Regions from separate parts of the Homo sapiens genome. Here region 2 is reported to be linked to region 1. The links are microRNA targets in miRTarBase. Many come from high-throughput screens and were not tested one by one. Region 1 holds a microRNA gene; the other region holds the end of a gene's coding sequence.

Evidence for each region. The annotated mature microRNA hsa-miR-551b-3p reads GCGACCCAUACUUGGUUUCAG and lies in region 1 at 1,484-1,504, shown strand. An mRNA with a match to its seed (bases 2 to 7 or 8) in the 3' UTR can be bound and repressed. Matches are read on the target gene's strand: a 7mer-m8 pairs with bases 2 to 8, a 7mer-A1 pairs with bases 2 to 7 and ends in A, and an 8mer does both.
Region 2: miRTarBase lists ANKRD50 as a target of hsa-miR-551b-3p. Seed matches in the 3' UTR shown: 7mer-m8 at 616-622.

Annotation. Positions count from the first base shown.
Region 1 is chr3:168,550,431-168,554,499 of GRCh38, forward strand. MIR551B (microRNA 551b) reads left to right here and starts at 1,424; the gene lies at 1,424-1,519. It also overlaps the pseudogene EGFEM1P.
Region 2 is chr4:124,665,551-124,669,616 of GRCh38, forward strand. ANKRD50 (ankyrin repeat domain containing 50) reads right to left here. Exons shown (of 5, transcript NM_020337.3): 4 at 3,434-4,066; 5 at 1-1,964. The coding sequence ends at 3,437. Among named protein-coding and RNA genes, the nearest start is that of ANKRD50, 45 kb to the right of the region's middle.

The DNA of each region.
Region 1 (4,069 bases):
GCCCTTTGAGCAAATGCTACCTTGATGTAAAACTTTCCACAAAGAAGTTAATGTTGGTAAAGTGCCACTCGGAAATTAAAGCACAGTGCTTTGAAGAGTTAAATCCAATGACCTTGTAAAGAACTGGAAATTGTTAACAATGGTGCTGTCTGTCAAGGCTGGCATACTAGAGAGGCTCCGTGTGGACACCAAGATCTGAGCTCGTGAGGTAGGTGGGAGGGGGAGGCATGGTGATTATGGTAAATAGGGGGGCCCAGACAAGATGAGTCTTTCTGTCTCAGGAAGGAAAAAAAGATCACTGAAGAGTAAAGCTAGGGTACAGAATGGCAACACCAAGTTTAAGTGTTGATGCAAGGGTTGATGGCAATGAGATGAAGCTGAGCAGGGAACCAGGTAGAAATGGAACTGAACAGGTGCAGGGAGGCAATGGAGCAAAGAGGTTTCTGGGCCACTCTCAGGATCAGTCATGAAATGTCCTTAGCTTCTCATTTTTGTTGGAGGATATGTGGAGGCATAGAGCTTGGTCACATTGAGCTGACGCAAGTCACTGATTCCTGCAACCTCTAGTGATGCATTTCCAAACTCAGGTTAAAATGAAGGTCAAGAACTCCTGTTTTGCCATTTCTAAATTATTGGGATTAGGCTATGAGCTTATTTCGAGGTATTTTTCAGTTCTGCTATGCTATGACTCTGATTTTGTTTTTATTTGGTAATCTTATATGGACAATAATTGCATTTTGCAAATTTAAAAGTATCATGCCAACATGGTTTGTCTGTTACTTAGCTTTCATTTTTCTTTTAATGTTGGAAAATTGTGATACAAATTTATAGATCCTAAATTAACAAATTACTCAAGACTTTAGAATTTCTTAAAATGTTATGGTATGCTTTTTTTTTGAAAGCTCTACATTTTATAAAACCAAATTTGTCATACGAAGTTTTAGGTATCAAGAAAGAATTCTGTGGATTTTTGTGTTGTCAGGGTATCTTAGATTGTAATTTTATGTATTTTCCTTTTGGTACCTCATAAAAACTAGAAGGGCTTTCTTGAACTGCATACTTTGTCAATACAATTTGATGATGGAGAAAGACATTTAAGTCCAGAACGATTGGTGTAAAGTACACTGGGTGAGACTGTATAGTTGAATTTTCCAGATGATCGAAAATTGACAGTAAAGAAATATATACAAAATAGATTTTGAAAGAATTGTTGAATGTTTACCTGTCGCTACATATTATCTTGGATACAGTACAGATAATCCGAATGGAAAATTGCACTGAAAATGTCTTCCCCTGAGTTATATTTGCTGGTTCTTACATAAAATGTTATTTATACAACAGATTTTATTGTATCTTCTCTTGCTTTACTCCTTTATCACCTTCTAGCTAACTGTCCTGACTTCAGACCTCTGTTAGATCTGCCAGATGTGCTCTCCTGGCCCATGAAATCAAGCGTGGGTGAGACCTGGTGCAGAACGGGAAGGCGACCCATACTTGGTTTCAGAGGCTGTGAGAATAACTGCAATTTAGAGGGAATACCATTTATGTTTATGCAGGACTTCCAGAGAAAAAACAAAATTTATTATAGACATAAAGAATAAGAGATGAAATTCATGATTATATTGCATTTCTGTTCCAATGGGATTAAAAAAAAAAAAACACGTATTCTAAGTAAGTTGAACCAGGTTGACAGCTAATGATTTGATGTCTCTGTTAATGATTTTAAAACATTGTACAAATCCAAAACTGTTTACTCCTTCAAGGTATACCTCCTTTTCTCCCACTTCTCCAGCTATTGTGGTCCATTTGCCCTTGCTCTGGGCTAGTTCCTTGGTAACTAACAGAAATGGATGGACAGAGATGCCATGACAGGAGTATGGATTTTGCTGGGTCCTCATTTATGCTGGGGCATCTATCAACTCTTTTTCCAACATATTTTTGTTTCCCACACAGCCCCACTCACAGATGCTTGCCTATAGGGCCAAAAATCTCTAGTTAGCAATCTGCCAGAGTCCTGCTTTTTTGTGTAGGAGATTGGAGTTCTTTCAAATAACCCATCTGGTAAGATGTAGAGAAGTAGAGAAACTGAGGTAAATAAAATGTATATTGTTAAGTACTTTATTGCATACTTTGTACCTTTGCTGATAATTAATTTATAGACTATATCTGTTGAGCTGGTGTTGGTTAAGGTTGTATTTGCTTGTTTGTTTGTTCTATACTCTTTAAAAACTTTTGTGGGTGGGTAGGGAGGGTATAATGGTGTTGATGTATGTTGTCATCCCTTAGGCCAGAGGAACCATTTCACAATTACTTTTTATTTTCTCAACAAGAATTCTGAAGGCCTGTATCTTTGGCACAGAAAATTAAGCTATAAAGGCAAGTTCTGCCAAGTATATATTACATATCTCCTGGCCATGGATTTTGGTAGGCTGTGAGAAAAATATGAAAGTCATTTCCAAAGATTTATTTTGTATTTCCTTAATTGACTTTCATATTTGTAATACATTTTCTATTTATAAATGGTATTTCTTTGTTCCACTTAAGGTACCTTAATTTATAAACACACAAAATTAATCAAGGACATTTCCCCATTTTGTTAGGTTCTGAGAAGAATAAACCAAATTCTTCGCCAAGGCTTTTCCTTTTTTGGAAAATGCATTGGATAAACATGGTTTTCTTTGAATTATCTCAATGAAAGAGCTTCTCCCTGGACATTCTAAAGAAGTGCTGTCTGGTAGATTTTTCTGTGTTGACAGAAATGACCTACAATCTGCACTAATTTGACAGACATTAGCCACAAGGCACTTGAAAAATGGCCAATGAACTAAATTTTTAAATTTATATAGCAGCGTGTGATCAGTGGCTACTATATTGTAGAGCATAGTTCTAGAGTACTTTAGTTATTTAGATAATTTTTTATAGATTACAAGTTTACCAAATTCATCTTTATCAATTCTCTTATGAATTTGCTAGGTTTTGGTTAGTAGCTTAAGTTTATGTATTTTAGAGCAGTTTTAATACATCACCATGTGTTTTGACTTAGTACTTTTAGGCTGCTACTAAACCAAACACAATACCATAAATTGGATAGCTTATATAATTTTTTTCTCACAACTCTGGAGGCTGGGATTTCTAAGAACAAGGCACCAGCAGATTCATTGTTCAATGAGGGCCTGTTTCATGGTTCCTAGATAATATCTTCTCACTTTGTCCTTACGTGATAGAGAGGGCAAGCAACTCCTTCAGGCCTCTTTTATAGTGGCACTAATTCCATTCTTGAGGTGTCTGTGCCCGTGACTTAATCACCTCCCAAAGGCCTCCCCTCCTAATGCCATCAACTTGGAGGTTAGGATTTCAATATACAAATTTTGGGGGCAACACAAACATTCAAACCATAGCATTCTTATACAATAAACTACTCACAAAATAGAGAGTTAACTAAAACAATTCTCCAAGTTTTAAACAATTTATATGGTTGCCACTTTATTTTCTATGAAAACAAATTAAATTTCTGCTGAAAGCTAAAAGCTGGCCAATTACCAAGTGATCCCACAGTTATTGAGTGTTACTACTTGGACAGCATTAAATAAACCATTCTTTAAGTTACAGAAAAGATTTGAGGTGATTCCTCTCTTCAGCCATCCTACAGTCTTGATAGAAAGGCAAAACTGGCAGTTATGAAATAATTAAAAATAAATCAGTGCTAAACTCTATTATGTAAAATAGGAGTATAGATGAGGGAGAGATCAGTGTGGATCATAGTAGCCAATCTCTGCACTTTAAAGTTAAAAGGACCCTTAGAAATCATTCATTTGGAGTTTTAGAAATCATGAAATTGTATTTTATCAGGTTTACACACTCAAGATTTCACAGCCAGCTAATGACATGTCCAGTGCTTGAATAAAGGTCTCTTAACCCTCAATTTCGTGATCACTTTTTACTAGTTAGCCTTATACCTCCTCCTGGAGGAGTTTGTCCTTAACAATTCATTAAAAGATAGCTTGGGGTCAGCAATTATAGACCGAGTTCTATTGCAAATATCAGTTTCATCTAGCAGAGTGTTCCCCAA
Region 2 (4,066 bases), not on the chromosome of region 1:
TAAATGTACTGTATTTGAGATATGAGTAAAGTTGGTTCTAATAATAGTATGTGTTCATATTTATTAATAGACTCATTAACACTTTTAAGGCTACTTTGCAAGAGTCCCATTAATTTTATTTAATAAATGTCCCATAGGGACAAGAATTCAATACTTGAAACATTCACATTTGAGTTATTAATATTGCCATGTCACCTTAATATCAATTGAACTTATCAACTTATCTCGTAGTCCTCACTATGACTTATAGATGACAGACAAAATGAGTTTTGCTGACTTTAAAAAATAAAAGCAAGAAAAGCCTTACAATAAGATTCAAGTGAAACATTTATCATAATTATACATTTCTATTTCCACGAACAATGTATCACATGTGTCCTTCATATATGAAGATGACATTACTGACCTTTGTTATTAGGACATATTCTAAAGATTTTGTTCTAGAAGTAGCAATGGTTTTGTGCTGAATCTCCAAATTCTCTTTCCTCATTCCTCATCAACAGTACATGAAAAGAACAGAATTTCTGGGTTCTATAAGATTAACAGGCCCATTCTAAGATCAAATCCACAACCTTGGCTTCTAAACTGTTATGACAACTTTTCCAGACATATAAACGACCCATCTAAGCTACAGCTCCACTGATTTAAGAGTAAGGAGACTAAGGCTGTGGGACACATGCTCATTTGAACCAATTTTACCTTCCTTGTCATGAATTTCTCTCTTAACCCTGGCATCCAGCCCTCCTGCATGCAATTGTACAAAGAAGAAAACAGGAAAGAGTATGAGGATAGAAAAGTGCAAATCCATCACTATTAAGTAACAATAAAAAGTACACATGTGCTATGATTGACAGGGGAGTGGTGTCATCTGTGAAGGGCAGCACATTTTATATTCATCCAGAATATTCATCCAACCAAACCATTAAAATTAATCCAATTGATTTTGAGTGGGGCTATTTTGGTCATGCAGCAATTTACAAAATAGAAACCGCTGAGAGAGAAGCCAGCAAAATTAATTTATTTAGCCAGGAGGAAGAGGTCAGTTTAGTCAATGAATTATTCAGGGATCAAAAATCTACCCTTAGATAGACAGGTGCATTTCTCTCTGCACACACATGTGACTGAGGCATGGCTTTGTCCCTGAGAATTTTCATGCCTCAGGAATGATAGTCTGTCTTCTTAGAGGTGGAATGACAAAGTGAATGGAAGATGAAATTGTATCCCAGCGGATGAAATAGGACTTTGTTCTGCCTACAGACTGGTTGGTTGTTTGTTCTGACATGTTTAGCCAGAGATGAGAAGAATTCTACTGGGAAAATCCAGATTTAAACTACTTAAAGCAGCTCCCTAAACTACTATAAAATATTTTTTTTAAACTGCCAAGAAATCATTTTTTCATTTCAATGTGATATTTATATAGAAAATGATTTTTATCCAATGCTGAAGGTGTAGTGAACATAGAACAGTTGCAAGATTTGTTTTATTGAGCAACGTCTTTAAAGATACAAGAAACAGGCCATACACTACAATGCAATGTGACTGAAACAGTATGTTTAAGTTTCTTTTGCCACAAAAAGAAAAAAAAATAAATACAAGGAACACTGCCTTTTCATATATATTTGATTATGGCACATGCACATTTTTTATCACATCTTAACTTAAAATACTCAAATTTTCTTTTCAGCTTTTATCAGGGAACTGCAGTATGTATCTGCATTTTTAAAAAGTGCTTATTCCTGTGTAGTGAATACAAAGCACACAAAATGAAATTTTTTAAGCACAGAGGGTTACATTGAGAAGGCAGCCTTACTATTTAGGCACATTACAGTAATTAAGGTAACTGTACTGCAGAGATCACATTCTTCATTTTTTTTGTTTTTTCAGCAAATCAACAGGCATATGTTTCCATCCAGTAGCTGAAGAACCACTCCATCACAATGTCTTCTGTTTCACAGAATAGGAAACTAATGCAAAAGTTAAAAAAAAATTATTTTCTACATTGTATTATACAGCTACATATCATTTTAAAACTTTATTTAATACATTTACCTCTATATATCTTTATCTATATATTTACCATGCAAAGCACAAAGCAGACTTAACTATTATTTAACTTATAAGCCACTTTTTAAATTCCACAAAATGTTTACCTTAATTCTGGTGTTTCATTTTTAATACGTATTTATATTTTGCCTTTAAAACAGATATCATGAGAGTTGAAAGGGTGCACCATCAGAACTAATTATTTTAAAAACGAATTGCATTTGGGGACTGAATTAAGTACTTTATTCAAATTATTTTTGAATGACATTTGGTCACCCCTAGATTCACATTGAAGGCTGTTTATTATTAGAATATATGAGGAATTTATCTATAATAGTGTTTCACCTATTATATCCCTAAAATATATTTACAAAGACAGAAGCAGCAAAAAGGAAAGAGTATATATAACTTTGTTAGAGGAAGAAAAATCATTAAGCAAAGTGGGATAAATATAGCTGCAGTGTATGCTAGGAAAGACCCCTAATAAAATCTTCAGATTTATCTCCAATACAGGAAATGAGCTTCTGAAAAAGTATCTAAAATATAAAACTTACATACCTATTTTCCCACTAACATCCCCTATATTATTAATGAAGTATCCTTTGTTACAGGAAGGAGAAAAAAAAATTTATTTAACAAATATGACTATTTTATCCAGGTATAAAGTGCCCTAAATACCAATATTGCAAAAACATCCATTTATCATTTTTCACGTCTATGCCTTATGTGTGAAAACATTACTTAGAAGAGTCTCAAGAGATCTGTCATCATAAAAACTACCTTCTACTAAGTTTTTGACTTCTTTCTGAGTGAAAAGGAATGAAATTAATATTTACTATCTACTATGTGCTACAGACATTATTGCATTCAAACCAAAAAGATGAGTTTGAAACAGCCCCTCCCTCTGACACCATCAAAATTCTTTTAAAAGGAGGACATAACTGAATAGGAAAGAATTCTTAATCTGGGATCCATAAGTAGTATATTCATTCATTCATTCATTAGTTCATTCACTTATTCAACAAATTTTTACTGGGAAACTACCATAGGTCCAAGCACTATTCCAAGTACATGAAATACAGTAGTGAACAGATAGAAAACCCTACCCTCACAAAGGTTGTATTTTTAGTTCAGAGGAGAAAAATAATAAAGAAAACATCTGAAGTATTTTAAATAGTAAGTGCTTTGGATAACATAATGCACGCAAGGGGGAAAGGAGTGCTAGAGGCAGGAGAATTCTGATGTAAAGGGGTGATGAGGCAGGTCTGGCCCAGATGACATCTGAGTAGAGATTAACTGAGGGAATTGGCCTTGTGATCAAGGAAAAGAGCATTCCAAGTAGAGGGAACTCTACTTTTGTTTTTTACTCTTTATGTTGACAAAATATTACCTTTTATAATGGTGTTTCCTTTTTATAGTTGAAGCTAGGGTCAGAACCTTCAATCTGAAGCTTCAGAGCTTGTTTAAGGCTTAATTCTGTCTCTGAGGAAGGGTATCCCTCCAACACTTCCTGATGCCCTCTATCTTGCATTGTTCGTGGGACTGAAACCCTACCAAGAAAAACCTGGTTGCTCTGAAGATGATAATTTGGATTTGTCATTATTCCATTTCTCTTCTTCTGTTCCCCACTTTGTTGGTGAATAAGAAACTGCTGTTGAGATCGACCAATTTCCTGCTGAGCTGAAGGTATCATAATTTTGCATTGAGATTCTGCTGGCATTTGTTTAGGTGGTGCAGCAGTCCCGGATTTGGCTATAGGTCCTCTTCTATCAAACTGAGTCATTTCATATTCTAAAACCTTTGGCTGTGAAGAATTACTTTGTTTCGCTTTTTTCCCAGCTGATCCAGACTTGGCAGAATTTTCTGATTTCCCCCCTTTACTTGCTTTAGTTGACTTCAAACTGGGCTTTACTTGACTCCACTCAAATTCACTACTTGGTGAATTATGACTCTGTCCTAAGGACTGTGTTGTGGAAGATGGGGAAACAATTGACTGTCGACTTCTACTGCGTGGCAATGAATG